Regions from separate parts of the Homo sapiens genome. Here regions 1, 2, 3 and 5 are each reported to be linked to region 4. The links are microRNA targets in miRTarBase. Many come from high-throughput screens and were not tested one by one. Region 4 holds a microRNA gene; each other region holds the end of a gene's coding sequence.
The links. Region 4 holds the annotated microRNA hsa-miR-766-5p (AGGAGGAAUUGGUGCUGGUCUU, at 3,613-3,634, opposite strand). A microRNA usually pairs through its seed, bases 2 to 8, with sites in the 3' UTR of a target mRNA and lowers its output. Matches are read on the target gene's strand: a 7mer-m8 pairs with bases 2 to 8, a 7mer-A1 pairs with bases 2 to 7 and ends in A, and an 8mer does both.

Region 1: miRTarBase lists GMEB2 as a target of hsa-miR-766-5p. Seed matches in the 3' UTR shown: 7mer-m8 at 1,109-1,115, 7mer-A1 at 1,449-1,455 and 7mer-A1 at 3,077-3,083.
Region 2: the mRNA of MUCL3 is a reported target of hsa-miR-766-5p. Seed matches in the 3' UTR shown: 7mer-m8 at 1,833-1,839 and 7mer-m8 at 2,109-2,115.
Region 3: the mRNA of WRN is a reported target of hsa-miR-766-5p. Seed matches in the 3' UTR shown: 8mer at 3,989-3,996, 7mer-m8 at 3,866-3,872 and 7mer-m8 at 3,773-3,779.
Region 5: the mRNA of STARD3 is a reported target of hsa-miR-766-5p. Seed matches in the 3' UTR shown: 7mer-m8 at 4,332-4,338.

Annotation. Positions count from the first base shown.
Region 1 is chr20:63,584,974-63,590,984 of GRCh38, reverse strand. It overlaps GMEB2 (glucocorticoid modulatory element binding protein 2), which reads left to right. Exons shown (of 10, transcript NM_012384.5): 10 at 256-3,380. The coding sequence ends at 896. Among named protein-coding and RNA genes, the nearest start is that of HELZ2, 14 kb to the right of the region's middle. RefSeq lists enhancers at 488-657, 2,575-2,744, 3,338-3,507 and a cis regulatory region at 3,422.
Region 2 is chr6:30,951,941-30,957,951 of GRCh38, forward strand. MUCL3 (mucin like 3) reads left to right here. Exons shown (of 3, transcript NM_080870.4): 2 at 1-559; 3 at 1,031-2,281. The coding sequence ends at 1,177. It overlaps HCG21 (HLA complex group 21), which reads right to left and starts at 2,922. Exons shown (of 3, transcript NR_138040.1): 1 at 2,837-2,922; 2 at 422-591. RefSeq lists an enhancer at 3,772-4,452.
Region 3 is chr8:31,172,725-31,178,596 of GRCh38, reverse strand. It overlaps WRN (WRN RecQ like helicase), which reads right to left. Exons shown (of 35, transcript NM_000553.6): 35 at 2,459-5,602. The coding sequence ends at 5,495. It overlaps LOC105379358 (a long non-coding RNA gene), which reads right to left and starts at 1,522. Exons shown (of 2, transcript XR_007060884.1): 1 at 964-1,522; 2 at 1-509. RefSeq lists an enhancer at 5,349-5,872.
Region 4 is chrX:119,643,187-119,649,197 of GRCh38, forward strand. MIR766 (microRNA 766) reads right to left here and starts at 3,662; the gene lies at 3,552-3,662. The region is part of intron 5 of SEPTIN6 (septin 6); the gene reads right to left. RefSeq lists an enhancer at 4,716-4,895.
Region 5 is chr17:39,662,422-39,668,324 of GRCh38, reverse strand. STARD3 (StAR related lipid transfer domain containing 3) reads right to left here. Exons shown (of 15, transcript NM_006804.4): 15 at 4,124-5,521. The coding sequence ends at 5,417. It overlaps TCAP (titin-cap), which reads right to left and starts at 2,976. Exons shown (of 2, transcript NM_003673.4): 1 at 2,856-2,976; 2 at 1,771-2,609. The coding sequence starts at 2,965. The coding sequence ends at 2,216. It also overlaps a transcript of PNMT not described here. RefSeq lists a silencer at 1-38 and enhancers at 1,082-1,819, 1,820-2,557.

The DNA of each region.
Region 1 (6,011 bases), not on the chromosome of region 4:
CAGGCCCCGGGTCAGTGCAGACCCTGGGTCAGCACAGGCTGGTGTCTACCCCGAGGGCCATCTTGGGCCCCGTCTCCCACAGACCTCACCTTTGGCGGCCATGTGGTCATCTGGGTTTGTGGCATCAGGTGAGCAGACCTGGGTTGCCACTGACCCAGGGGCCACCCAGATGGTGTGGCGTGTCTGCCCCCATCCCCTGCATGCCGCCATCCATGCCCCCGTCCCCTGTGTGATGCCATCTGTACCTCCCTGCAGCCCTGGAGCAGCAGTGTGATGAGCATCGTCGCCGAGCCAAGGAGCTGAAGCACAAGTCCCAGCACCTCAGCAACGTGCTCATGACGCTGACGCCGGTCTCCCTGCCACCGCCTGTGAAGCGGCCCCGGCTTGCACGTGCCACATCAGGACCGGCCGCCATGGCCTCGCAGGTGCTCACCCAGTCTGCCCAGCTGGCGCTTGGCCCGGGCGTGCCCGTCCCCCAGCTGACCAGCGTGCCCCTTGGTAAAGTGGTGTCCACCCTGCCGTCCACCGTCCTGGGCAAGGGTTCCCTTCAGGCGCCCCCCGCCAGCTCCCCGGCCTCCCCGCTGCTCGGGGGATACACAGTCTTGGCCTCTTCCGGCTCCACCTACCCCAGCACAGTGGAGATCCACCCGGACGCGTCCAGCCTCACGGTCCTGAGCACGGCCGCCGTGCAGGACGGTAGCACGGTGTTCAAGGTGGTCAGCCCGCTACAGCTGCTCACGTTGCCTGGCCTGGGCCCCACCCTGCAGAACGTGGCCCAGGCCTCGCCTGGCTCCAGCACAATTGTGACAGTGCCCGCAGGGGCTGCCCCCGGGCCTGAGGAGCACACGGCCACCATTGAGGTGGCTGCCATGGCAGAGGACCACGAGCGGAAGTAGCCGACAGGAGGGCGAGGCCCCTGGGACGGACAGGGCTGGCTGTCTCTCAGCCGCGGCAGCAGGGAGCGGGCAGAGGCCGCAGGGCTGGCTCGGGCAGGTGGGTCACGTGGTCTGCAGAACCAAAGAGAGGAATCGCCAAAACAAATCACGAGAAGAGAGAAGGGGACAGAACAGCGAGAGCAACCTGGAAAATCGGTCTTCAGGTCCCACGTTTCCTCCCCCTTTTTTCTTGGGAAATATATTTTTCCATCTGTTGCTTATTAATACTGTTTACACATTGGGCCTTGATCAGGAGCCAGGTGGGCGGGGGCTAGGGGGAGCCTGGGTGCAGCAGAGACAGAGGAAGCAGAGCCAGGTGCCGAGCGCGACCCTGCAGGTGCTGGACGCGGTGCAGCAGGTCACGAGGCCCCCATGTCTGCACCCAGCCAGGTCCCTGGGGACGTTACTAACTCATGACTTGGGAGCTAAGCCCAAGTGTGAAACCTCTGGATCCTATGGATTTGGTTTCTTCCCACAGTTTTCTGTAGGTTTAGTGTGGCTGGCGCCCCGTTCTCCTCCAGTTGGGAACATGCACCCGGAGCTTGGGGTGCAGATCCTGATGGGTGCCTGCCTCCCCCGCCCCCAGCCGGTGCTCAGGTGGCCCAGGGGCCGCACAGACGAGGCGTGGTCCAGGCATTGTTGCACATGTACTGAGGGTGTTTTTAAGTGAATTGCTTAGTAGGCTTCTAGGAAGAGTCAGATTTATAGCATTTTCAACCAAAATAATGGTGAGTGCCTAGGCTTCCCGAGTTAGCTCTTTGGGTGGCCCCTGAGCCCCTGTGAGTGCACTTGACCGGGTGCGGAGGTCCTGGGCAGCCTGTCCCTGAGCCGGCCCCTCCCAGGGGTCTGAGATCCATGAGGTGTGTCCCTAGGGCTTCAGTCCTGGGGCAGAGGCATAAACAGAACCAGTCACTATGGAGGTCGAGGATTCCCATGTGGGCCCTTCAGCTTGGGCTGCTTGGCCACGGAACAGCCCTTGGCTCCCTGGCCCCCGGCCCCCATGCAGCCCCTGGGCTGGCCCTTGGTGGTCTCTGTCCAAGGGAGAGCCCCTGGGTGTTCAGGAGGCTGCCCCGGGTGGGCTGCTCAGGGCAGCTGCCGAAGGTGGAGCCCAGAGCCTGTCTGGAAGGGCTGTCTGTGGCTGTCCTGAGACCTGGCCTTGGACTCACAAGGAAGACCAGGCTGAGGCCCCTCCAGGCCAGGGTCCTGGGGCAGGCATCTCAGGGAGCAGCCAGCCCAGGCCTCCTGCCGTCTCCAACAGGGCATGTCCCGGGAGGACCCTGAGTGCCAGATTCCCCTGGACGCTCCTGCTGATTCTGTCGGCAGTTGAAGGCCCGTCTGAGGCCCCGCAATGCGAGGGTCCTGTGTCCCACTTCACTGCTCCGAAGGGAACTGGCTGGCTGTCCGTCCAGTGAGCGGCCCAGACCCCACCTCTGCGCCATTGTCACCAGGGCCCTGTCCTGGCTGCCCTCACCCATGTCAAGCTACTGAGGCTGTGTCTTGTTTGTTTTCTCTGTTACATTTTTGTTTGCTGTTGTCACAGTCAGCTGGTTTCGGCGTGATGTTGATCTTTTGATGTACATACTCCGTTTTAAACTCATTTCCACTCTAGTTGAGTTCTGCAGCATGCAGCGGTATGACCCTACGGGGGTCAGGAGAGCCCTGCGGCCCCCACCCACCAGCTCAGAACCTGTCACTAATACAGCTGCCTGTGACCCTGGGACCCGCAACCTTCCAGCTGCTTCCCTTTGTCAAAGTCACGAGTGCGTCTGCCTTGACAGCCCTCGTCAACAGAACTTCCAGTGGGTTGTGGGTTCATTTCCTTTCTTTTTAAGAACAGGGTTGGGACCTTTTCTGCCCCTGCCCCTTAGCTACTGAGGCATAGGGAGAGGAAGTTAATTTCAGAGCCATACAAAAATAAGCCACAACCAGCTTCAGAATTAATTCCCAATCCCCCATTCCACCAGGGCTGGGAGCCCATTCCCAGTGCTTCCCAAGGCCCTCGGGGACATCTACCGCCAACCCAGCTGCTTCTGGCAGGGGCTCCAAGCCCCAGCGTGGGGAAGGGCCCTGGAGAAGCCCTCATCCTCATGGGAACCACACTGCAGTGGGTGGGGAAGGTTGTTGTCAGCACCGCCCCCGGCTCCTCCAGGTCCTGCTGGCTCCTCGGGGGCAGGGTTCCCTGGACCTCCCAGTTCTGCGCCTTGGGGCCAGCCAGTACTCAGAGAGGAGGACCTTCTCAACCACGTACAGAACACGGGTTTTCATGGCTGCCTTTGGTTTGGTTTTCTGAGAAGATAGGATTGGATTGGATTTTGCAGAGGGTGAGAACTTCTCTGTGCCTGCTCAGAGGCGCCCTAGGGAAGGGCCATGTTTGAGTTTTGCTTTGTATGTTGTTTTGCAAGTATCTGCCTGGTACTTTGATTTAAAATAAAAACAATTTTCATAGTTTGAGTGTCTATCTCTTGGAATGAAGTGTGGAGAGAAATCAAGTCTATAAACACGCCCAACGCAAACAGCGCTGGCTGCCACCCCCGCCCCGGACCACTCACACCCACATGCTTCGTTCTTCCAAGTGTGGCCTGGGGGCTTCAGGACCCTTCCAGGGTGTCCCGAGGTCAAAGCTGTTTTCATCACAGCAGGTGCCCTGTGCCCTTGTCCTTCTCTCCCCAGCACGCATCGGAGTTTTCAAGAGGCCTGGTGGGAGGATCATGGCCGTTTTAGTCGTTAGTGCTACTGTAACAAAATACCGCAGGCTGGGGGGCTTGCAAGCAACAGAGGTTCATTTATGCAGTTCTGCACGCTGGCAAGTCGGAGATCAAGAGCATCAGCCGATTTGGTGCCTGGTGAGGGTTTTGAATCAGCCGATTCGGTAACTCGTGAGGGTTTTGAAGGTGTCCTGCAAATCGCTGGAGGACAATAGTAAGAACAGCCTGGGCCCCACCTTGACCCGAGGCTGGCGTCGGAGGCACCGCCGCTCACAGGTAAGGAGACCTCTCAGTGGCACAGGGGCCTGCGCCCGCCAGTCAGGAGCTCAACAGACTCACGCCCAGGGGGGCCCCTTCCTCCCCTCTCCCAGGTTCAGTCCCAGAGCCTTCTCGTCACCAACGCTGTTCCCCTCCCTGCTGCCATGGTCCACCCAAGGCCATAGGAGCCTGCACACCAGCCACAGGCCAGCCTCCCAGACTCACGGCCCAGCAAGAGGCAGACATAGAAGTCCACGCTGTGTGGTCACTGGGTGTGGTGGCTCCCGCCTGTCATCCTAGCACTTTGGGAGGCTGAGGCGGGTGGATCACCTGAGGTCAGGAGCTTGAGACCAGCCTGGCCAACATGGTGAAACCCCATCTCTACTAAAAATACAAAATTAGCTGGGCGTGGTGGCAGGTGCCTGTAATCCCAGCTACTCGGGAGACTGAGGCAGGAGAATCGCTTGAACCTGGGAGGCAGAGGTTGCAGTGAGCCGAGATTGCACCACTGCACTTCAGCCTGGGCGACCAGAGTGAAATTCTGTCTCAAAAAAAAAAAAAGTCCATGCCGCGTGGTTCCACTTAGGAAAGTTGGACACGTCCCTCAAGGCAGAATGGCATCGAAAGCCGGGTCACTGGGTGCCCTCCGGGACGGTGGCTGGAGGGGCACAGGGCGCTGGTTCCAAGAGTCCACTCTGAAACCTGCCCTTCTGCCATGGCTGCTCTTCCACGCTTGTGCCCTGCTGCAGCCCAGAGCTGATAAACGCACAGGCATGTCCTTCCAGCACACATTGGCACGGGACCACCCTCCCCACAGGTCATCTGTCAGCTCCTCAGATTCCATGTGTACAAGACAGAGCTCCTGCTTCATATTCCCTCCCATGCTCTGTCCCCATCGTGCCCCGTCGGGGAGGGGAGCACCAACACCTGCCCACAGGCTCAGCCCACCTTCCTGCAACCTCACATCCACGATGCATCCCCTTCTTGTGAGGCCAGGCCCCCTCCATCTCTCTCAGGTCGATGTAACTACCCGGTTCCCACCTCTGGCCCTTCCTACCCTCCTGCTACCCTTCCGGCTGTGACCCTTCCCATTTGCTGACACGTCCTGAGCACCCCCATCATTCCCTCTGCCCCTGGAGGGGGCTGCACCCCTCAGTATCCCACCATGATATCTCCTCCTCCTGATACTTCATGGGGTTTCAGAGGCCACAAGATACAAACCTACAAGGGGTCATGTCTTGTACCCACTGAGTGTCCCCAGGAGCCGGTGCAGCACTGGCCACTCCTCAGCTGAGGACACAGGAGTGGGGAGTGGGCTGTGGCCTGTCCAGCCCAGGGCACTCCAGAAGGCAGAGTCCCCACAGAGGGTGGAGTGCTTTGTGACATGCCACTGTTTGGATGGGCCACAGTATACCATTCAGCGACTGAGGGACATCTTGGTTTCTTCCAAGGTTTGGCAATTATGAGTAAAGCTGCTGTTAAAAACCCTCGTGCAAGTTTTTGTGTGGACCTAAGCTTTCAACTCATCTGGGTAAATACCAAGGGGTGAAACTGCTAGATTGTGTGGTAAGAATGTATTTCATTTTGTAAGAAACTACTGAAGTGTCTTCCGCCAGTGGCAGCACCATCTCGCATTCCCACCCGCAATGACTGAGATTCCTGTTGCTCCACGTCCTCACCTGCAATGACTGAGATTCCTGTTGCTCCACGTCCTCACCTGCAATGACTGAGGTTCCTGTTCCTCTACGTCCTCACCTGCAATGACTGAGGTTCCTGTTCCTCTACGTCCTCACCTGCAATGACTGAGGTTCCTGCTCCACGTCCTCACCTGCAATGACTGAGGTTCCTGCTCCACGTCCTCACCTGCAATGACTGAGGTTCCTGCTCCACGTCCTCACCTGCAATGACTGAGGTTCCTGCTCCACGTCCTCACCTGCAATGACTGAGGTTCCTGTTCCACGTCCTCACCAGCATTTGGCGTTGTCAGCGTTTTGGGTTTGGGACATTCTTTATTTTTATTTTTATTTTTTTCAAGATTGAGTCTCACTCTGCCGCCCAGGCTAGAGTGCAGTGGCACCATCTCCGCTCACTGCAACTTCCAGTCCCCGGGTTC
Region 2 (6,011 bases), not on the chromosome of region 4:
GACACAAGTCACAGAAAAGTCCACAGAACACCCAGAAAAGACCACGTCAACCACAGAGAAAACCACAAGAACCCCAGAAAAGCCTACGCTATACTCAGAGAAGACCATATGCACCAAAGGGAAAAACACACCAGTCCCAGAAAAGCCTACAGAAAACCTGGGGAACACCACACTGACCACTGAGACCATAAAAGCCCCAGTAAAGTCCACAGAAAACCCAGAAAAAACAGCAGCAGTCACAAAGACTATAAAACCTTCAGTCAAGGTCACAGGAGACAAATCTCTCACTACTACCTCTTCTCATCTAAATAAAACTGAAGTTACTCATCAGGTGCCCACTGGTTCTTTCACCCTCATTACATCTAGAACGAAGCTGAGTTCTATCACATCAGAAGCCACAGGAAACGAGAGCCATCCATACCTCAATAAAGATGGCTCACAGAAAGGTATCCACGCTGGACAGATGGGAGAGAATGATTCATTCCCTGCATGGGCCATAGTTATTGTGGTCCTGGTGGCTGTGATTCTCCTCCTGGTGTTCCTTGGCCTGATCTTCTTGGTAAGGGACAGATGTGCCCCACAGAAATCAACCTATGGGATAGGGAATTGAGGATACATTAGGGGTCAGAGTTACAGGGAATAATGAGTCTAGGAAAAGAGACATGGCAGAAGTGGGAGGAACAGTAATAGAGGGAGAGTTTTGGTGAAAACTAAGGAGAAAGACAATAAATACACAGGAGGTAAAAAGCTGGAATTGGGGACAAGGCTGTGGCTGAGAATGAAAGGGTGTGAAAGAGAAAGTGTGGGGGGTGGAGAGTCTGGGGTATGAGAATAGGAGGTGTAAAGACAAGGAGAATATGGTAGAGTGGGGAACTGGAGATGGAGCTGGGACTCATTGTATTGGACCTGGAGCTGGAATAAACATCAAGGTTTGGATGGAATCTTGAGAATAGAATCAAGACCTGAGGTGAGTGTTGTGGAAAACAAATCGCAGATGGTTCTCATTCCTCCTTTCTCATCCCAATCACAGGTCTCCTATATGATGCGGACACGCCGCACACTAACCCAGAACACCCAGTACAATGATGCAGAGGATGAGGGTGGCCCCAATTCCTACCCGGTCTACCTGATGGAGCAGCAGAATCTTGGCATGGGCCAGATCCCTTCCCCACGGTGATCTTGGAGTAGGCGCCCAGCCCTGGCTCTTCCATGCTCTGCCCCTTTCCTGGATGAGGAACCGGACTCACAATTTCTATTTCCGGGACTACAGGAAGGGCAGAGAATACTGACGGTTACCAGTATTAACCCTTCATCTGTTCTTGAAACTGGTTGGGGAATGAGGTGATAAGCAAGGAGGGTGTAAGTTTAGGGGACAAAGAAGAAAGAATGAATAATACGAGCAGACATTCTCTGTAGAAGGTAATGGTCTGAGAATGAAAAGGTGTTTGATGGACATGTTGTGGGGGCACCAATGCAGAACACTGCACTGAGTCCTAAAGGAAGGACAGGAGCCTTATAGGCAATGCCCCAGACTGACTTGTGAGTGGGGTTTATGGGGAAAGGGAGGGACTGAGGGCAGAGTCTCTGGGTTTCAGGACAGCATTATGTTATTTCCATTCACTATTACTTAAGAGTTTGTGTGTAAACAGGCTCATCTCTGAGTTCTCAGGACCCTTGCCCCCACCCCCATTTTTTTAATGAAAAAAAAAAACAAAAAAAACGGATCCAAGAAGAAAAGAGAATTTATTTCCTTCTCCACTCTCTCCATGCCCTGGAGAAAAAAAAGTCCAGAAGAAATCATAAATATCTCTCATCTACATGGTTGCTTCCTCTTCCTCCCAAATCCCTTAGTTTTCCTAAATGTCTACAGTGGACGCCCTGTTGGTTTGGCTTGCTGGGTTGTGGGTGGACACGCAAGGAGGGGATTTTTATTTGGCCAGCAGTCTCACCCACTGATCTCCACCCCAGACCTTCCCTGATTGGTGTCTCAGCATTTATTTTCCTGTCTCTTCCACCAAAAGCCAGCTGTAGCTTTATCTCGTAAAAGTTACCCATCTTCTCTACTGTCCCCATTCTCTCTCCTCCCACCTTCACCCCAGATTCAAGTTTTCCTCCTTGTAGGCATTTCATCTGTGTGTGTTTTCTGGATTTTCTCTCTCTCTTCTTATGGCCATTTCACCTTATTACTGATTGGGTAGAGGGGGAAAAGGAGAATGATGATGATAGTTTCCTTCTGTCTATTGACCTTTTTTATAATAAAGTATAACATGTTTATAAAGGGCATCATAGTTATTAGACTATCCATTGGGAGAAAGTTCTGACTGGCGTTCCTGGCTCTGGCTGAGACCTTACAGAAGTGGAGGAGACAGAGGAGCTGGAGGGCAGGACTGGCAATCTATGGAGGGTCAAGAAAGGGGAGGCTGAATTTCTATTGCTCCAAAAATGGCTCCTTTCTGGGTTTAGGTAAGAGCCAGCCTCAGTCCAGGCTGGGTTTATTTGCATGGTGACAAAATGAGTAGAAAAACCTGTCAATTAATAAGCAAGTATTTTAAAGCAACTATTATATACTCTGTTGAGGATATAAAGAAGTATAAGACATAGTTCTCACCTGAGACACAAAGACAGGAAAATTAAAATTAAATAATTCAACAAGAGTTGTCACAAGTTAGGTGCTATATAGAATAAAACAACACCCTAATTCATTAAGCCCAACTCCGTGAGCATCTACTATGCCCCCTATTTATGTTAGGACACCAGCCCTGCTCCAAAACCGTTGTGTGCCCATGTCAGTCCCAACAGAAACCTCCCATCACCCATGCAGCCTTGGCTCTCTTACCAGAGTATGGCATCATCACTAATTGAACAGGTGCCCCAGTTTGCTGCCAGGCTCCTAAACGTAACTCCATCCAGAATCAAACAGCAGGGCCACAGGTCACTCGCTATCTGCTCCTTTGGGCATCCCCATTTGCTGAAAGCTGGAAACCTATCATGGTCAGTAATCCCAACCCTGACACTGATGTCACTGAACTATCTGGCCCTGGCTGGGCTGGGAAGGCCCTTATTACTGAATCTCCCACCAGAGACCCGCTCTGCTAAAGGCAAGATTGAAGCTTGACTCTCAGAAAGCAGACATGCCAGATGCCAGAGGGACCCAGACTTAGGCCCCTGGAGAAAGGAGGCAGAGGGACACCTGGGTTCTGGAAGGGGCTGGAGAGCCCTCGAGAAAAGGAGGAAGATGCCTGGATTTTAGTTGTCTGGGTAGACGGTGACTCAGCCTGTGGCATCTGCCAGGACAGGAGTGTCTCTCTGCCCTGGGAGGGATGCAGAAACCCCTAAACTCAGCCTGGACCCCAATTCAAAAACAAAACGAAATAAAAACATCTCTGCCTCTAGAGTCCTAAACATCCAACCGGACAGACCCCTCCCCTATCAAGACACCAAAATGCAGCACTGGAGGTCAAAGGGTGTATAAGGGGGATGGGGAGGTTCTTCGCCCGGCAAAGGCGGACTGTGGGCCCTGGGGCGCGGCGGGTGTCTCCCTCCCACTTTCCTCTCTATTCCCCGCTAATTATCACTTTGAAATCTAGGCGGAAATCCTTTAACAAGCTCCGGGGCTGGGCCCTCATTAGGGATAATTACTTAATCAGTAGGACGGGAGGGAATGCGCTCCCCCAGCCCTCGGGGAGTACACCTCGGGGGGAGCGAGTGCCCCGAGGGCAGGAGGCTGCCGGGGCGCCGGAAGCTGCTGTCCCGGCGGAGTCGCAGCGGGGGCTCCGGTTCCCCGAGACTGCGGCCCTCCCTCGTTCCTCCAGGTTCCGCTTTGCGGGCGGCTTCTGATCTCTTGCGGACAGCTCAGATTAGTGGCTCGAGGCCGCCGCCCCCGCAGCGCCCCAGCCCTACTGCGCCGAATCCCCTCCTCCCAGCCCCCAGCCCCCAGGGAGGGGCCTGGACTGACGGGCCTGGGCGTAGCTCCTACCCCCGTGACATTGGCCATAAAACTGACACCCGTTTGTGCTGTGCTTTCACGTACATCGCACCTGTGATCCTCCGATCACCCTGCGAGTTACGAGGCCTGCTTTACAAGCCTTATAAGAAGTTACAGACCTTATAAGAGTTCTTATAAAGCTTGCTTTACAGATGAGAAAACCGAGGCTCAGAGAAGAGCCCTGTTCAAACCCACACGGCTCCTATGGAACAGAAGGCTTGCTTTATTTTCTCCAAGCCTCAATTTCACTTTGTTCCTCAGTGGAGCCAGGTTCTCTGACACCAAGGCAGCCCCACCTGGACGGGTGGGATGTTACAGGGACCACCTAAGGAACAGGGTGTAATTGAGATTTGCACGAGGGTGTCCAGCCCCTTCTTCCAGAGTCCAGGCCTCCCTTTCCAGCTCCTTGAACGTCCAGAGTCTTCTTCTGGCCTCACTGCCAGTATCCCAGGTCAGGGTTTTTTCTGCCAGCCTCTGTCCCCGGAGACACATTAACTGGCCTCATAGTCACAGGCTCTGCATCCTCCCCTCACAGTGCCCAGCTGTCCCTGGAGAGGTGCTGGCAAAGTAAGAAGATCCAATGATTTGGGACACAGTCACCTTCATTTTTCTCCCCTCTGCCTCCTACAAAGGCCTCTGTCCCAGAAATGAGACATCCCAGAGAAAACAGGTTTCTGCTGACCTCTGGCTGGGAGGGTGGGTCTCCTCTCCTCCCACAGATGTGATTCCCTTGTTCTCTCCCGCTCCCTCCTTCTTCCCTCATATTGTCATGGCCTTAAGATACCCCTCCCTGGAGAGGGAGCGTCCAGAAGTTACGGCCTCCCCTGCCTGGTGGCAACTATAAATGCCACAGCTATGGTCAAGTGAGAAAAGAAATTAAGCCAGACATATTGTGGGAGCAACCCTCAGAACCCAGGAATCCAGCATTCCCAGTCCCCACTCACCACTGTCTTGGAACCTACCCCAACTGATCTTACTCCTCCCAGAACCCTGCCCCTGGCAAGCTTTTAATTCTTCCTGCAACTTCATGTCCCATTGAGACACCAGGCATCAAGGCCCCCTCTGGAGCCCATCTGCCCTCTAGAACCCAGGCATTCTAGATAACAACTTCCCACATGGATTATTTCAAGATGAGGTGAGGGAAATTACCTCCCACCTCCTGCATCCAGGTGATGCTTCTCTTTGGAATCTTGAGACTGGTAAGTGAATTATCCATCAATCGGAGAAGACACTGAGGCCACAAAAAGTCTGAAGGAGACAAGGGTTCCTGTCCCAGGCATTCTGTTTGCTTTTCTTATTCTCATTCTTTTGCAAAAGCAAAAAGCAAGCAAAGATGATGAACTTCTTTTTTGCCCCTTTCTGCAAAAGCCAGTACTAACCTTAACCCCCACTAACCACGATTTTGACCCCCAACTTCACCTTGCAGCAAACCCACCTTCATCTTCCCCTTCCAATGCTCCGCTGTAAGCATGAACACAAATAATAGCTGTGTTGTATTTCCTTAGAATCCCGGGTTTAACGGCTGCTCAACAAATGCTTTGTATCTAACTTGAAAATTCTAGTTTCAATATCATCTTTAAATATTTATTAGAGCTAGGCTCCAAGTCTAAAGCCAAGTGAAATGAAAATATCACTTCCAGAAATACTGCCTAAATTAAAATCCTCAGTAGGGCTTTCATAATCCCCGGATAGAGACAGGGAGGGATCCTTCGGATCCCAGGGATACGGGAACTGTGGGTGATATTAGCCTGAAGAGAAGTACAATCCAAATTCCTGTCTTCCTAGCCATTTCACCTGACTTCTCTCCACCTGACTTCTCTCCTTGGTCCCTTCAATGTTTCAAGTTTCTCTGCCTAATGACTACAACCCAATGTCAGGCAGATTTATAAAGCCCCTTCGCTTCCACTGTAGGATGGAATGCCATAAAAAGGGAGCAAGGAGACAGTTGTGGAATTGGAATAAACAGAAACAGCCCTAGGCTGAATGAACAGGAGGCTGCTTTGTGGTGGCTTCTTTGATGTCTGTT
Region 3 (5,872 bases), not on the chromosome of region 4:
GGTTTAATTTATTCTATATTCTACTTATGTCTACATTTTCTCAAGGTTTAAACACATTTACCCAGTAAGGAAACAAGTACATTATCTCAAATGATTTAGGGATTATGTTCCCAACCAAAATCTGGTAAATAACTTTTCAGATAGCTGAGACTGCTGAAGTCAGCTACCCCATCAAGGCTATAACTAACCTTCTTCACTGTTTCTGTGGTTTTGCAATTCTTTTCCATAAGACACTTCAAGTCTATTACACTCAAAAACTACTTTGAGTTCATTCCATTGGATCGTTCATGCTCTTAATTATATGCAACCTATTTGAATAGGAAGAATCCTATATTCTTTTCTTATTCTATCTGGTAGGGCTACAGCTTTTTTGAATTCCAGGCAACAGTCAGGGCTTTGTCTGAATCTATGGTCACAGGCTACACCTGGGGAATTCGCCTTCAGCTCACCTGTTCCTGTAGTAAATATTCCGTAACGTGCCGAGGTCCTTCTGGCCCAGCTACTTGCACCTGGTGATCAGGCAGGTACAATGAGCCAGAGCCTCCAAACACACTCAGGTGGTAGGGAGCGAAACTTAGAAGATAAGTTGGTGCAAAAGTAATTGCTGTTTTTACCTTTAAAGTCCCGCCCCCGCCGGACCTGGAAAAGGATGGAGAGGGGGTCTCGTCTGACTCCGCCCCCCAAGGGGAGGGAGATTTGCCTCTGAGCATGGGAAGCATGACCAGGTTTGGATCTAGGGTGCTGGGGTCCTGGTGGAGCTCCAGTGGGCCCCCTCCCTGCACCCCTGCGATTCATCCAACCTCCCTACACCCTCAAATGACAAGTTCAGCCCCCCAAAACCCCCGGTGACGAGTCCAGCCGTGCTCCCATTCTTCACAAAGGGTGAGGACGGACTTTCAAAGACTCAGAGATCCCACGGGTGTGGGTTGGAGACCTTCCTCTACCGGTTCCCAGCTCCCTTACCTGAGCACACGACTTATGCGCCATTTAATTTTCCATAAGAAATCGCTCTCATGTACTTGTTCTGTGCCATTACTTCTAATGGCAAAAACACCAGTTACTTTTGTTACCAGTGGAGGGTGTCCAGGCTCTTGGTGTCTTGAACTAAGAACTGAACAAAATGCACAAAGCAAGGAAAGAATGAAGCAAAAAAAGCATGCATTTACTGAAAATAAAGTACCCTTCACAGGCTCCAGGACTCAAGAACCAATTAGAGGCTTAAGTGAAACAACCAATCAGAGGATGAATAAAAATTTAAATAGCCCTTCCACCCTTCCACCACTTCCACCACTTCCACCACTTTGTGAAGTCACAACAGGTACACCCTATGCAAGCATCTGATTGGTTGTGGAAAGCAACCAATCAGAGGCTAAAGTGAAGTTACAAAGTTACATTTCTATGCAGGCGACTTGGCCTGCGATCCGTCTGATTGGTTACAAAGTTACATTCCTACGCAGAAGCAACCAGAGATACTTTCAATTTTCCATGTGCCACGCAGAAAGGTGTGGGGGAGGGGCAGTTGAAAGGGAGGAGCCATCTGGTACTTTTGTTATTTAGGTCTGGAAAATTGGGGTTTTCCTTTTGATTTAGTTCTAGGAAGTCAGTGTGAATCGGCCTTAGTTTCCTTGCCTCCAGACCCTATTCTCCTGCCTCACTTTTGCACCAACCTCATACAACAACCCATACAGAACTTGAAGATCCAGGAAGCCTCTGCCTCCATCCAGGAGCCGCTTCATCCTCTACTCGGTGTAACTATCTCTGAGATTCCACATCCTTTGAGATTAAAAACACTTTACATCTTCTGGGTCTGTTGACGGGTCCTTCCACCAATCACATCGCTGTGCTTCTGTGACAACTGAACACAACTGGAAGTGAAAAACAACTCCTCATTCAAAGGGGTTTAACGTAAGTAAAGGGAAGTTAATGTCCCATGTTTCTGAAATATTCAGAGGTAGGGCTCATTTCAGGAAAGGCATGAACCAGCAGCTCAGTTGGCCACACACCTACCCCAGATCCAAACGCTGTTACTAGGGTCTAGCTCAGAAGAGGTCACAGGTGCCAATCCAATATCCAGATGGAAATTATTCTCCTTGGAACGAACCCCAACAAAAATCAAGAGTCACGAAAAATGGGGAAAGAGAGAATTTATGCTGGGAAGGCATAAAGTCCACTACAGATAACATAACAACAACAACAAAATTCTCTCTCTCCCCCTCTGGCTATGATATGGTATGAGACTATACCATATTTCATTTCAAGAATGTTCAAAGCAGCTGGGCATAGTGGTGCACGCCTATAGTCCCAGCTACTCAGGAGGCTGAAGCAGAAGTATCACATGAGCCCAGGAATTCAAGGCTATAGCATGCTATGATCATGTCTGTGAATAGCCACTGCACTCCAACCTGGGCAACACAGCAAGACCCTGACTCATTTTTTAAAAAAGGTCAAAGCAGTGCTGTTTAAAACAAAAAAACTGAAAGCAACTTTAATGTCCAACAATATGAAGTAAGGTACATAATTCATGGTACACCTTTATAATAAAACATTACATCAGCATTTCTCAATCTCTTAGGTCTGAGAACCCTTCCATACTCTTAAAAAAAAATCACTGAGGACCCCAAAGAGCTTTTATTAATATGGGTTATATCTATCACTACCACTTTAGAAATTAAAACAGACATTTAAAAATGTTTCTTGTTTTATTTAAAAATAGCAGTAGTAAACCAAGTACACATTAACATAAATACTTTTAAAAAACATATTTTTAAAAACTGAGAACAGCAGCATTGTTTACATTTTGCAAATCTCATTGTCTGGCTTAACAAAAGTGGCTGTATTCTCAGATCTACTTCTGCATTCAATCCATTTTGATATGCTGTTTTGGCTGAAGTATATGAAAAAAATCTGACTTTGCACAGGCACGTAGTTGGAAAAGAGAAGAGTATTTTAATAGCCTGTTCAGATAATGGTGGACATTGTTCTCTGAAATTTTACCAAAAAGTGGACAAGTAATAGTTTCTTAAAGATTAGTTGCAGTGTGTAATCTGAAACTATATCAATAAACTTTTTCATACTCTGTTATATTCAAATATATCAAATCCATTGGTCCATCTTGTACTCTGAACAGATCTTTTACCCAGTCATGATTTCTTTTTTTATTTTTGAGACGGAGTCTTGCTCTGTCGCCAGGCTGGGGTGCAGTGGCGCAGTCTCAGCTCACTGCAATCTCCGCCTCCTGAGTTCAAGCGATTCTCCTGCCTCAGCCTCCCGAGTAGCTGGGATTATAGGCACGCACCAACACACCCAGCTAATTTTTGTATTTTTAGTAGAGACGGGGTTTCACCATGTTGGCCAGGGTGGTCTCGATCTCCTGATCTCGTGATCCGCCCGCCTCGGCCTCCCAAAGTGCTGGGATTACAGGCGTGAGCCACCGCGCCCGGCCTCAGTCATGATTTCTTAACATCACATATTAGTCATCCAGAACATACTGATTCACTGAGTTATACGGATCTTCGAAACACAGAAAAAATCTTTATATAATATCAAAAACTCACATTTGTTAATTACTATCCATCTCATTAGAAAAGGCTTTATGTAAGGCTGTGCATGGTGGCTCACACCTGTAATCCCACTATTTTGGGGGACTGAGGCGGGAGGACTGCTTGAAAGAAAGAAAAAGAGAAAGAAAAAGAAAGAAAGAGAGAGAGAGAGAGAAAGAAAGAAAGAAAGAGAAAGAAAAAGAAAGGAGGGAGGGAGGGAGGGAGGGAGGGAGGGAGGAAGGAAGGAAGGAAGGAAGGAAGGGGAAGGGAAGGGAAGGAAGGAAAGAGAGAAAGAAGAAGAGGAAGAGGAAGAAGAAGGAGGAGGAGGAGGAAGGAAGGAAGAAGGAAGAAGGAGAAGAAGAAGAATCAGAAGAAGAATTAGTAGTAGTAGTAGTGAAAGCGAAGAGAAAGAGAAGTCTTTATGTTAAGGAAAGCTGTCAAGCTTCCAGTGGAGGAACACAACTTTTCCAAAATTATACATTTTGCTAGAAATCTCCAATTTTATCATTGGCACAACAAATACCAGTTGTTTTCCGTGAAGAGGCCAACTTAGTTCAATTTTGAGAAAATGTCTGCCAAACATCCAAATCTAATAACCAATCATCGTTTTTCATTAGTCATTCTTTTCAGTGAAAATGGCAAGCCATGAAAAAAAGCAGCAAATTCAATTGGCAACTCAAATAATCAAACAAGTGCTTCTCCTGGAGACAGCCTCGTACCTAGGCATGCAGCAGACGTGTCTGTGCGTACTTGCCACTCCATCACACAGGATATTCACAGGGTATTGCAGATGCACACACAAAAGCATGCAAATGCAGAAGCCATGGCTGGACAACAACATATCACATATTTAATAGGCGCCACTACCTTCTGGTAATGCAATGCAGAAAAATGGGAATATACGAGACTTTTATATTTTAACTAAAAACAAATGAATATAAAAAAGTCTGGTGGGATACACAAAAGAGGTTGACTGTGATTAGCTACTAGTAAAACTATGAATGATTTTTATTTTCATTTTTCTCACTTCCCTGGATTTTCTAGTTCTTCTATGACAGATATATTTGTTTCTTAACAAGTTATTTTTATTTACAAAAAAGCCAATCAAAGGCTTTGAAATGGATGGTGAACTGCTTAAAGTTAAATAATCATCGTTTACCCAACTCTGTGTCACAGTATAGGTTTTAAATTAAGTCACATGTGCTACATAAGAGAGATTAGAATCAAATTCTGACATCCTGGAAAAATAAAGGTACTTAAAATAATTAAGTAAATGAAAGCTAAAAAATATATATATAATATTCAGTATGAAAAACATTGTTTTATTACTTGAAAAATAATAGAAATTGTATATAAAATACAAAATATACACTTGCCTAGTGCAATTGGTCTCCATTTTACATTTTTTACATGTTTTTTCCCTATTTAATGGCACCCAAAATGCGGTTTCATTTTCACTGCCCTGGTCAACTAATACCATTTAACAACGTATTTAAGAACTTCTTCAAAAGACAGTAAAAACAATTTGTAAAATAACTATGCTTTCTTACATTTACAAAACAGAATTTTGATAATATATGAATATTTTATATCACATAATTACCATGTAACTACTAATCTGTTATCTATATCAAATCAGAGCACATAACATTTTCCAAATACACTGTTTTAATAAAGAGATTAGAAAACAGGACAGTAACAGTTTCTTAAAGCAATCTTACAGGAAGTCTAATTTAATATTCTGTTAGGTGATGTACTCACGTAGGCTCCCAGAAGACCCAGAAACTACATGAATTGCGGAAGGCTGATTTAAGATGCCAGTTCTTCAATAAACAGTGAACTTTGTAATTAGAATGATTTTTAAGCCAAAATACTACTCCTTACTCTTCAGAAATAAAATATAGCTATCCTCTTATAATACAGCAAGAAACATAATTGTTCTGGTAATTGCCAGCTTAACTAAAAAGACCTCCCCTTTTCGTTTTGTCCATTAATTTCTTGCTGGTATCACTTCCTTTGGCAAACCACACAGGTAATCGTCTCTTTCTCTCTGCAGATGAAGTCTGTAGGAAATAGAAAGAAAAAGAAATCAAATCTTTGTACTACTGAGAAGGGGTATTAGTTGCAAAAAAGTAACATAAGTTCCTGAATACACACCCATCCTTTCTCCCCCATCCAAACAAAATAGTGGTATCTATATAATTTATTTCTGGATCAAAAAGTAAATAAATATAAGACACACAAAATCACTACATCATTTCTTCAGGCAATTACTTGCCATCTCATCATGTAGTCTTATACACTCAACACACCTCATTCAGTAAGTAAAAATC
Region 4 (6,011 bases):
ACTTTCTGGGAGGACATTTCCCCTGGAGAGACCCCACAGCTTCAGCCACATGACACAGAAGAGCCAAGGGGTGGCGAATGCAGAGAGCTAGACTGAGGGAGGAGGTGATAAAGAAAAACCACGTTGTAGCACTCCCTCCTCCTGGGCTCTCAGCTGTAAGTGATGGAGGAGGAAGGCATGTGAATTGGGAGGTGCTTCTCTGAGCTCGAGGAAAAAAAAAACCAAGAAGAAAACAAAGGCATACAAAAATGTCAGTATTCCCTCGGGCCTGTTGCATTTTTACCATCAAGAGACACCGTCAGAATGATAGGGTGACTTGCTTCCCCCTCTTTCTCAAACTGCTGTCATTTTATTCTTCTAGCTCAAAAACATAGCCCCAGCCCTCCCACAGCACGCTCCTTTGCAGCTGGCGTCAGTCTGCTTTGATAAGTATATGCAAGGTAGGCATTTCCCAGCGCTCTCCTTTGGTTTGATTTTCACAACATCCTTCTATGGCAATGATTAAAAGATCCATTCGTGAGCTGAGGGAACTGGGATACATGGAGGTTAAACGAGTTGCCTAGGTCCCTAACCCCCATGCCCAGATCCTCTGAAGCAGCAGCGAGGCCACCGAGCTTTGGCTGCCAACCTCTCCCAGCCACCTAGGGTGGTCCGCACTCTGCCTCCTGGCTACATGGCATCTGCTAGAAGGAAGCAAACCATGACAAGCAGGAAATCATGGGGACCAGGCTCTGGCCCTCTGTTCCACTGCTTTTGAGAGACAGATGGCTTTGACAACCAGAATAGAGTCGAGCAGAGCAGAGAGCAGATACCCACCCTCCCCCCGCACCACCACGGACCATACTTCTAGGTCCTACCAATGGGATCCAAATCTGAGGCCAGGCTTTCTGCTATTTTTCCCAGGTCTCTGCAGGAAACTGACAGACAGTGGTGACATTTTCTATGTGTGGACCCAGGGAAGAGACTCTGATAGATGCAGGGCAGTGTTGCTGCTGAAACACAAACAGGCCTCTCAGGAGAGTCTGTGTGACTCTCTCACTCAGACTTCCAATGAGGCGCCCTCGGATATCAGATTTCCCAGTGTCAGAAAACTCCAACAAGAGATAGTCGCAAGCCTTCCTTGGGAGTCCATTCCTAGATTCACCATCTGTCTTAGTGCATTTTGTCTTGCTACAGTAAACTACCTGAGACTGAGTAATTTATCAACAATAGAAATTTATTCAAAAAAAAAAAATTTATTCCTCATAGTTCTGGAGGCTGGGAGGTCCAAGATCAAGGCACCAGCATTCTGGTCTGGTGAGGACCTTCTTGCCGCATCCTCACACAGCAGAAGGACAAGCTAGCCCAACACTGCATGATGTCTCTTTAAAAAGGGTCTTCGGCCAGGTGTGGTGGCTCACGCCTGTAATCCCAGCACTTTGGGAGGCCAAGGCAGGTGGATCACGAGGTCAGGAGTTCAAGACCAGCCTGGCCAAGATGGTGAAACCTCATCTCTACTAAAAATACAAAAATTAGCCGGGCGTGGTGGCGGGCGCCTGTAATCCCAGCTACTCGGGAGGCTGAGGCAGAGAATTGCTTGAACCTGGGAGGCGGAGGTTGTGGTTAGCCGAGCCAAGATCGCACCACTGCACTGCAGCCTGGCCGACAGAGCGAGACTCCATCTCAAAAAAAAAGGGCCTTCATCCCATTAACAAGGGAGAAGCCCTCATGGCCCAATCACATTTTTTTTTTTTTTTTAAGATGAGAGTTTCGCTCTTGTTGCCCAGGCTGGAGTGCAATGGCACGATCTCGGCTCACTGCAACCTCCGCCTCCCGGGTTCAAGCGATTATCTTGCCTCAGCCTCCTGAGTAGCTGGGATTACAGGTGCCTGCCACCACGCCCAGCTAATGTTTGTATTTTTAGTAGAGACAGGATGTCGCCATGTTGGCCAGGCTGGTCTTGAACTCCTGACCTTGGGTGATCCACCCGCCTTGGTCTCTCAAAGTGCTGGGATTACAGGTGTGAGCCACCGCGCCTGGCCAGGCCCAATCAATTCCTAAAGGCCCTACCTTTTTTTTTTTTTTTTTTTTTGAGACGGAGTCTCACTCTGTCGCCAGGCTGGAGTGCAGTGACGTGATCTCAGCTCACTGCAACCTCCGCGTCCCGGGTTCAAGTGATCCTCCTGCCTCAGCCTCCCGAGTAGCTGAGACTACAGGTGTGTGGCACCATGCCCAGCTATTTTTTTTTTGAGATGGAGTTTTGCTCTTGGTGCCCAGGCTGGAGTGCAATGGCGTGATCTCAGCTCACCACAACCTCCGTCTCCTGGGTTCAAGCGATCCTCCTGCCTCAGCCTCCTGAGTAGCTGGGATTATAGGCATGTGCCACCATGCCCGGCTAATTTTGCATTTTTAGTAGAGACGGGGTTTCTCCATGTTGGTTAGGCTGGTCCCGAACTCCCGACCTCAGGTGATCCACCCGCCTCGGCCTCCCAAGTAGCTGGGATTACAGGTATGAGCCACTGCGCCTGGTAATTTTTTGTATTTTTAGTAGAGACGGGGTTTCACCATGTTGGCCAGGATGGTCTCGATCTCTTGACCTTGTGATTCGCCCACCTTGGCCTCCCAAAGTGCTGGGATTACACGTGTGAGCCACTGCACCCAGCCCCGACCTCTTAATACTATCATACTGGCCACACCTGAATTTTGGAGGGGACACAATCAAACCATAGCACCACCTTTACTGACTTGTGTCTAACTTAAATTCTTCTTGTACATTGTAAAGTACTTAATAATCCAATTGGCGTGAGTTACTTTATTCTTATTTCACCACATCCATTATACTTGGGAGGCTAGGTGACTGCTTAGCCCAGTGAAATACACACTGTCAGAACTCTTTATTCCTCATCTAATGATAATATTCTGATTGGGCTTGGTTTCCTCCCAGGGTGGACAGTGTTTCCCAGTTATGTTAGTCCCCATTTCAGGCCCCTGCTGGTGACTGAACAAGACCATTGGCTGATTTGCTCTCAAGTCAACCACTGGTGATTCCTGTAAAAGTACATGGCAACAATGGAAATACCATTGCTGTCTCAGAGGAAGGGATGGACTTGTGCCTGTGGGTCTTCCTATGACCCTACTGTTCAGCCATGTGTTCTCACTGGGCCCAAATGTCAATTGCCTTTGTGGGAACCAAACCCCAGACCTCACAAATGGACAATTAATGGAGCTCAGTCAATTAAGTAACTGGGCCTTTTTGCTGGTCCTGGCCATGCTTTCAGCCATTCAAAGAACATCATTAAATTTAAAATAACATAGCAATTCTTAGTATTAAAGTCTACAACCTTGAGAGATATCAGAGCATGGGTTGAAAATAGCATGCAACAAGACCTCGCTCTCCCTTCTCTTCCCCCTCAATCTACAATAAGGTTTTCTGGAGCCACCCATAATTCAAGGTGGTGGCAGGGACCTCATTACTCTCATTTCCTGCCACAAAAATCCCCCATGGTGAGAGACAGGACATTGTACAGTCTTCTCCACTCAGGCAACAGATTTCTTCCGCTTCTTCCAATCCAGCTCCTATGACAATTGGCTGGGGTGGCTGAGGCTGTGGGGCTGGAGTCAAATCCAAAATGAAAGACCAGCACCAATTCCTCCTACCACCCAAGCCCAGGTCCTGAGGATGCAGCTTCATACACCACGGCTTGTGTGAAGACTCTGGGGACTTTTGACATAGTTGTTCGGTGGCAGGCAGGCTAAGCAATCCTCTGTGTATATTTGATAGCACCCTCTTTCCCATCACAGCGCATGTAACACAAAACACTCACATGCAAGCTCCTCTCACAGGCATGCCAATTCAGGCACACTAGCTGTGAGGCCACTCCTCTCTTTCCCACTCAAAAAAAACCCATAGTGGATTAGCCGGGCATGGTGGTGCATGCCTGTGGTCCCAGCTACTCGGGAGGCTGAGGCAGGAGGATTAGTTGAACCCAGGAGGTGGAGGCTACAGTGAGCTGAAATTGATTGCATCACTGTACTCCAGCCTGGGCGACAGAGTGAGAGCCTGTCTCAAAAAAAAAACAAAGCACAGTAGGATGCAAGGGAGTAAGTGGTGAGTGATTTATGATAGGGATAATCCTGAATCCACTGGAATTCCCTGCTCCTCTCCTCTCCTCCCCTCCCCTCCCTTCCTCCATTCCTTCCTTCCTTCCTTCCACTGGAATTCCCTCCCTCCCTCCTCCCTTCCTTCCTTCCTTTTTATTTCTTTCTCTCTTTCTCTCTTTATTTACTTTCTTTTTCTTTCCTTTCCTTTCTCTCTCTCTTTTTTTTTTTTTGTGAGACAGGGTGTTGCTCTGTCACCCAGCCTGCAGTAGTGCAGTGGCTCGATCAGGGTTCACCGCAGCCTCAACTTCCCAGGCTCAAGTAATCTTCCCACTTTAGGCCACCCACCGACCAAGTAGCTGAGACTACAGGTGTGCGCCACAGCACCAGTTAATTTTTTCTTTTTTGAGATGGAGTTTTGCTCTGGTTGCCCAGGCTGGAGTGCAAAGGCGAGATCTCAGCTCACTGCAACCTCTGCCTCCTGGGTTCAAGCGATTCTCCTGCCTCAGCCTCCTGAGTAGCTGGGATTACAGGCATGCGCCACCATGCCTGGCTAATTTTGTCTTTTTACTAGAGACGGGGTTTCTCCATGTTGGTCAGGCTGGTCTCGAACTCTTGATCTGAGGTGATCCACCTGCCTTGGCCCCCGAAAGTGTTGGAATTACAGGCGTTAGCCACCGCGCCCGGCCACTAGTTAATTTTTTTTAAATTTCAGTAGAGATGAGGTCTCACTATGTTGTTCAGCCTCGAATTTTGTTTCTCAAAGTGAAACACAATTATGAGTAATAAAGGACCCAGAATCCCTTCACAGCCATAACAGCATGCTTGACAACTGCTGCTGCCTAGCTTGGGGGTTTCCAGCCTTGAGGTTGAGCCTACCCTAGGCTTAGCAGGAGGCCAGAGCTGAGCTGAGAACAGAGCCCAGGATGATTATCACTCCTAATCCATGAGGTACCAAGATGTGGTTCTGTGTGACACCTTGAGATGGCTGAGTACTCTCAGTCCCTATTTATTCTTAGCAAAGCAAACCACAAGCCTGCAAGCTGCTTGATGACTTAGGGCATCAGTGTTCAGAAGGTCTCTATGGGGACTGATGTCCTGAGGTGACTAGACGCTTCCAGACATCAGTGCCCGTGGCACCCAGATGACACTTCTCGCGAGGCTCCCGTTTTTCTGCAGACTAGGCTGTCTCTTCATAACAGAGCCTAGTTTCCATCAAAATGCCCTGACTTCTCGAGAGGACAAGTGCTAATCTTTTTTATTTTTTCCATGCCCACGGCCGGTCAGAGAAGACCTATCTCTACCTACCATGCTCCAGATAGCCTTACCCTTGAGCCAGATTTGTCTAAGATGGTGATGGTGATAACAAACACATCTCGGGTGTACTGATGGACAGGAAGTCAGGAGAGACAATGACTTGCTGCCCTGCTATGCTAATTTGTTGGCCAATTCATAGGAGGTGGCAGCTGAAGTTGTAATGATAACTTAGAGGGCAGTGGCAGCAGGAAAGTTTTCTAAAAATGGCTTTTATTACAAGGCTTTCCTGAGTTTGGCTATACCCAGGCATTATGTCATTAGGAAAAACTGATGACACTCAATAGAGAAAAAGAAATCTGTTCCTAAAGCGGAGGCTTTCTGAAAGCTATTAGCTGTCTCCTTGAAATCACAACATTGAAGATTTCACAGCAACAGCAACACATTGTAAGGAAGCATTAGGAGATGTTTGCATCTCTGCCTTCTTTATTACTCATTTCTCTAGTAGGAGAAAGTGGGGGAGGAGAGGAAAGATGGCAAGGTTTTTTATTATTATTATTCATTCACACTTAATAAAGCAAAGCATAACGCTGATTTTTTTTTTTTTTTTTTTTTTTTTGAGATGGAGTCTCACTCTGTCGCCCAGGCTGGAGTGCAATGGCGTAATCTTGGCTCACTGC
Region 5 (5,903 bases), not on the chromosome of region 4:
CATCTCCCTTAGTGTCCGGGCTGCAGACACACCGGAGGTGAGTGGGGCGGCGGCTGCAGCGGCAATCGTCCCCCACACCCCCGGCTCCGTACTTGCTCCCGCAGCCCTCGCCCTCCGCCTCGCCTGCCCCGCCCCGAGTCCCGCCTCTGGGCGCCCCCCACCCTCAGTTCCTCACCCCCACAATCTTTAGACCCCCTCACCCCCGCCGGCCGGCCCCTCCCATCTCTCTTCTCCAGCCCCCCGCAGCCATTCACCTCTTTTGCCCAGCAGCCCGCCCCTTCTCTTTCCTGATTCGAGGTGGAGACTGGGGAATTAGGCCCTTTCCCCAGTTTCCCCCTCGCAGCGCCCTCCGCGACGAGGCCCCAGACCCCGCCAGGCTCCCCTCCCTCCCGGACACCCGTCCCAGCACCCACCCTTCCCTTAGAACTGCCACACAACTCCCCCTCCCCGCCCCTCCTCCAGGCCTCTCTCGTCCGTTGCTATGCCACCGGGCCCTCCAGCGACACCCCCTCCCCACCCCGCCCCAGAAAGGACAGTCCGTTCCGGCCTCCGCTGTGGTCGCTCCGGGGGCCCCAGAGCAGGGCGCGGCACTGCCCGTCCGATGGCAGGCGCGATAGGGGAGGTGAGCTGTGCTAATGCACTTAGCGGGCGGAACAGCCGGGCCTCCCCTGCGGGCCCCGCGGGTTCCCAGCCGCTTATCTGGGGGCTCCCGAGGACAGAAGGTTCGGGTTCGGGTTGTTCCCGCCACTTCGGGGGCGGCGCCGGACCCGGGTGAGGGCAGAGGGCTTGGGCAGGGGAGGGGCAGGACGCATTCGCGGAGGGCCGCCGGGGCCACCGGGGAGCGCAGTCCGGGCCTTGGGGCCCAGCCGATTTGGGGTCCTGCGGATGTAGGGGCTCTGACCCCACTCCTCTCGCAGCCCACCCTCCAGCTTCCCTCCGAAGGAGCGGCCAGGCCAGGCATGAAGATTCTGCTCAGCACCCCAGGTTCTGGCTGTCAAAATGCCAGGGTCTCCCCACCTATCTCCCAGATGGGAAGCCAATTCTGCCTGTGGCATCTCCGTGGTCTTCCTGAAGACCCCTTCCTTCCCCTCTGGATGAGTCCCGGGCCCTTCTGCCCTGGGTAGGTCACCAGCCCAGCTCCTGCCACCGTGGGTTCCTGGCCCCGCTTGATGTGGGCCTCCTCCATGCCATTCCCTCCCCCTTGTCCCCAGGGGAAAGTCTCCTTGGGAGAGGCAGCTAGGTTGGGACATGAGTCACCACAACAGCTGCAGGGGTCACAGAGGGGAGCCTGACCCCCTAGCACCTCCAACCTTCCCTGGCTTCCAGGGCAGGGGGTGTGGAGCGAGACACAGCTGAGGATTGATTCTGTCTGGATTCAGAACTGAGAGGCAGGTTAGTTTTAGAGGTCACTGACCCCGTTCACACCCCGAGGCAAAGCCAAGGACAGTCCTGGCACCAGCCCCTCCATATTCTCCACGAGACATCATTGAAACAAACCCTGGATGCGGATGCCAGCTGGCTTGCTGGTTACCACCCAGTGCCAGGGGGCTGGACACAGAAGCCAGGACTGGGCAGCGGTCAGGGTACGGGAAGGAGACTGGAGACAGCACCCTGTTTACAGCTCTGTCCTGCCCCCACCCCCACCCCAAGTATGGGGTGTACCCATTAGCTCTGCCATATTTAGCTCAGATGCGGAGCCTGGTCCCAGAAGTGGGCATTGAGGGGACACCCATGGGCCAGCCCCCCCAACCACAAGGAAAGAGATGCAACTCTGGCACATGATTGAGCATTTATTGCGGCACTAACAGAGGGTGCTGGGGGCCCCACCATCCTTGCCTCTGCCCTTTTCACCTCCCCCTCCCTCCCAGCTTCTTCTGCCTAGAGCGTTCCAGATTCCCCTCACATTTTCCTGGATCAGGGCCACTCCTCCCAGGCACCTCTTGCCCTCACCAGTACCTTTTGTCCCTTCTCCTGGGGCTGAGGGTCCTCAGCTGTGCTGGCCCCCAACTCTCCACCCTTAGTGCCCACTGTCTCTGCCACCCTCCCTTTGGGAACTCAGGGGGCTCAGGCATCCTGGCCTCTGGCTCCCCCCTCCCCTAGCCCCCAACTCTGGGCAAACTACAAAGCAGCCATGGCCAGCAGCTCCCCTCCACAGTCCTAGCCAGGAAGGGCCCAGCCCAGGGCGGGCACAGCGGAGCCCAAGTCACAGTCCCTCTCAGCCTCTCTGTGCTTCCTGGGACATGGAGCGGGACAGGGAGCGACGAAGTGCACCGGGCTTGCTGACAGGCACCACAGGGGGCAGCTGCTTTGTGATCTCAGCCACCTCCTGGCGGTCCACACACTGGCCACCCAGGGCTGTCTCCAGCGCCAGCAGCTCCTGAAGCTGGATGGGGGTGTCCTCACGCTCCTCCTTGGTGGCGCCCATCTTGGCAGGGGTGAAGATGGGCAGCGGCAGTACCCGCTGGTAGGGCAGCTGGTACTCCTGCAGCCCACGGCCGAGGATGCCCATCCGCATCATCAGCCAGGGCGAGCGCTGCACCAGCACCTGGCACTGCCCCTGCTGGTGGTAGGTCTCATGTCTCTGGGTGTCCTCCTCATGCAGGGAGCAGCTGGGGAGAGGGGAGGGGCAGTGAGCTCCTGGGAGCTGTTGCTCTCTGGGCACAGGCTGGGTGGGGGGCTCCCCTGGGCTGCTGGGACCTGGGGGCAGGAAGGGTGGTTCCCCTTTGCTCTCCCCATGGGGCATTCTTCCTGCCCCCACCCCCAGAAATTTCTCCAGGGCTTCATGCTCTGGCCTCATGGCTCAGTGAGGGTGCTCTGGGGGAGCAGAGGCAGGGCTCTAGCAGACCCACACTCACCCCTCCTCGGGCCGTGTGGACAGTGTCAGATCCTTCCATTCTGCCCAGAAGGCCTCCCGGCGCTCACAGTTCTCCTCCGACACCTCGCAGCTCAGCTCTGAGGTAGCCATGATCACTCCTCATTCTCTCTCCCCTCCCAGGCCCTTTAAATAGCCCCCTCCTCCCCCTTCTCCAGGGGCTATTTTCGGCCCCTCTGGTGTCAGATGCTATAAGTAGAGCCAAGACTCACTAATGGGGGGACGCCGGACCCAGGGCAGGGGTTGGGGTACCTGGACGCTGGCTGCCCCCCGGTCAGAGGTCTGGGGTCCAAGGTCCTGGGGTCAATGCCTCCAGGTGCCTGACATTACTCAGACACCGTCTCATGCCAGCCACATGCCCAGCCTTGTGCCCCCCTGGCACTTGCCCTCTGCCCCACCCACTCCCCTTTGCAGGGAGGACAGCAGCTTGTCTGTAAACAGAGCAGGACCAGCAGGAACTGATGCCCCCTCTGGGCTCTGTACCAGGGCTGCCAGGTCCTGCCCTGGCTGTGCTCTCCTCTGCCTGGGCTCAAGGGCATATCCCCAGAAGGGAGAGTGCAACCACGTCCTCAGGCGCCTGCACCAAAGGCCTAGTGCCTAGTCCCCAGTCACCCTCACCACACCAGCAGGGGCGGAGACAGTCAACTTCATGCCTGGGAACCTGGGGCATGAGCCTTGGCCAGGTGTTTTCCTTCCCCATGGCCAGTGGTCAGGTAAGTGGTCTTAGGAGACAGGTCTCAGGAGACAGTCAGGCTAGTAGGGGTGGAGGGCCCCCAGTTCTACCCCAACACCTGTGTTGGGTGAAATGGGAATCCAGGGGCTCTGATGGGTGATAGTCAGAAGGCCTGGCTCCAGATCAGCCATAAATAGGCTGTGTGACCATGGGTCAGTCCCTGCCCCTCTCTGGGCCCCTTTCCCCACTTTCTGGCCACTGCAAGAGGACCAGAAGAGCTCTGGAGCCTGCCCGCTCTGATGTGCTACCTGGGAGGGGACTGGCTCTTCTTCATGGGGAGCAGGGGAGACAGATGGCTGTGGGGACAGTCCAGCACCCCAGGAGTAGCAACTCATGGTGCAAGAGGCTGGCAGACAGGTGGTGGGTGTGGGGGGATGAGGAGTGAGAACACTGCCGAGTGGACAAAGGGTGGCAGGAGAGGCAGTGACAGGGGCTGAGCTGAGGACCCTGTGGGGACGGCAGAGTACCCAGGAGCACGTGGGTGCAGAACTGCAGACTATTGATTACTGAGCACTGTCCCCGGTTCTTCATATCTTTTAATCTCATAACAACCCTGTGACATCAGTCCCATTTTCATAAAGTGGGAAGCAGAAGCTGAGAGAGGTAGATTCGCCCAGGGTCACACACCTAGGCAGGACCGAAACAGGATCCACCTGGCTCTGAAGAAGCTGGCTCTGCTGGAAGCCTGCATGCAGGCAGGCAAGGGGGCAGGCCAGCCGGGAGGGAGGAGGAAGGCAGGCAGTGGCCTGGCCCCGCCCTGCGATCCGGGCTCCAGGCCGCCCCTGGTGTGAGTGCCGTGCGGGGAGAGGGAATGGGTGAGTGGAGTCTGGGAGGTCCGGGGCTCCAGGTGGCCTGGATCCCAGAGGTGCCTCAGTGACCCTGAAGCTCAGGCCCCATCTCCAGGCCACACAGTCAAGGCTTGCTGTGGGCACTGCCAGGTGCCCATACCCCCACCTCCATTCCTGGACTAGAGACTTTAAACTTGCCCCGCTGAAGCCTGGCAGGGGGCGGGGCATTTTTTTCTGACCAGTCATCTGCTCAGTTGAACTGGTCAGGAAAGCGGGGAGTGGGGGGTGGGCGGGGGGGGAATGGGGGGCATGTTTCAGGAACTGGCTCCCCGGGCTCCGCCCTCCTGTGAGCCCAGGAGAGGCTGTGTGAGGGGTCTTCCCTCTTCATCCAAGCTGCTGCCTGCCTTTCTCTTCCCTCAAGAGGCAAGGCAGTGGGAGGGGCTGGAATTTTTTTTTTTTTTTAAATTCATGTTTTTAATTGGCTTAATACAAAGGTCCCCCAGGAGGCCCTGGGAGGAGGGGGACAGCCTGGGAGAGGCAGAGATTCATGGCCAGCAGCCCACCCCCACCTGCCACCCACTCCCCAACAAGGGTCCCAGACTCTTTCAATAATCCTAAAAAAACCGACGAGAGCGCAGGCAGATGAAGAGCCCCTTCATCTTCACACGGGTGACAGGCTGCCCTGCCCTGCCCAGGGCCCTGGTCCTCCCCAGCCAAGTCAGGTGCCCAGCCCAGACCCTGCCCTGGCAAGGTGGGGCAGAGCAATCTGGTCCTCCAGGAGGCAGGGCGCCATGTAAACATCAACAGGCCAGACCCCACTTCCTCCAGCCAGTGGGGCCCCGGAGTCCAGTGCTCCACCCCACAGCCTGCTCAGTCAGTCAACTCCAGGCACTGCGTGGCTCGGTGGAGGGTGACAGCCTGGGGCCAGGTCCCATGTGGGCAGTGCGAGCCCAACTGGCACCCTTTCTGGCTCTGGAAGTGGTGGCGACAGGACCCTGGCCCGCAGGGTGGGAGGGGGCACAGTCACGCCCGGGCCCCCAGCTCGCTGATGCGCTGTCGCAGGTGAAAGGCAAATTCAAACATGGTGGCCGCGAGGCTCTGGTGGATGAGGTACCGGGGCAGGCGGCCCTGGGGGAAGGCAGGCAGAAGTCACACTTGATGGCCTGCCCTCAGCAGGGTCTCCCCTTGCAGCTGGCACCAGCAGGGGGGCTCTGGGCCAGAATGCAGGTGCAGCTCTGGAATCCAGCCTGGGTCGCCCTCTCCCACTCACCCCTGGCAGGAAGAACATGCTGGGCCTGGCTCTTGGCACCAGCAACACAAACAGACCAGGGTGGGGCCGGGCTGGCCACCAGCCACCCTTCCTCAGGGCCTCAGGACTCAGAGGTAAGAAGGGGGGGCACATGCCCTACAGCAACCCAGGGCTAAGAGACCATCTGGACCCTGACCCAAATTTTCAAGTAAGAAAGGTGGCTGACAAAGGGGAGGCCCAGGCATGGCAGAGAGCCCCCAA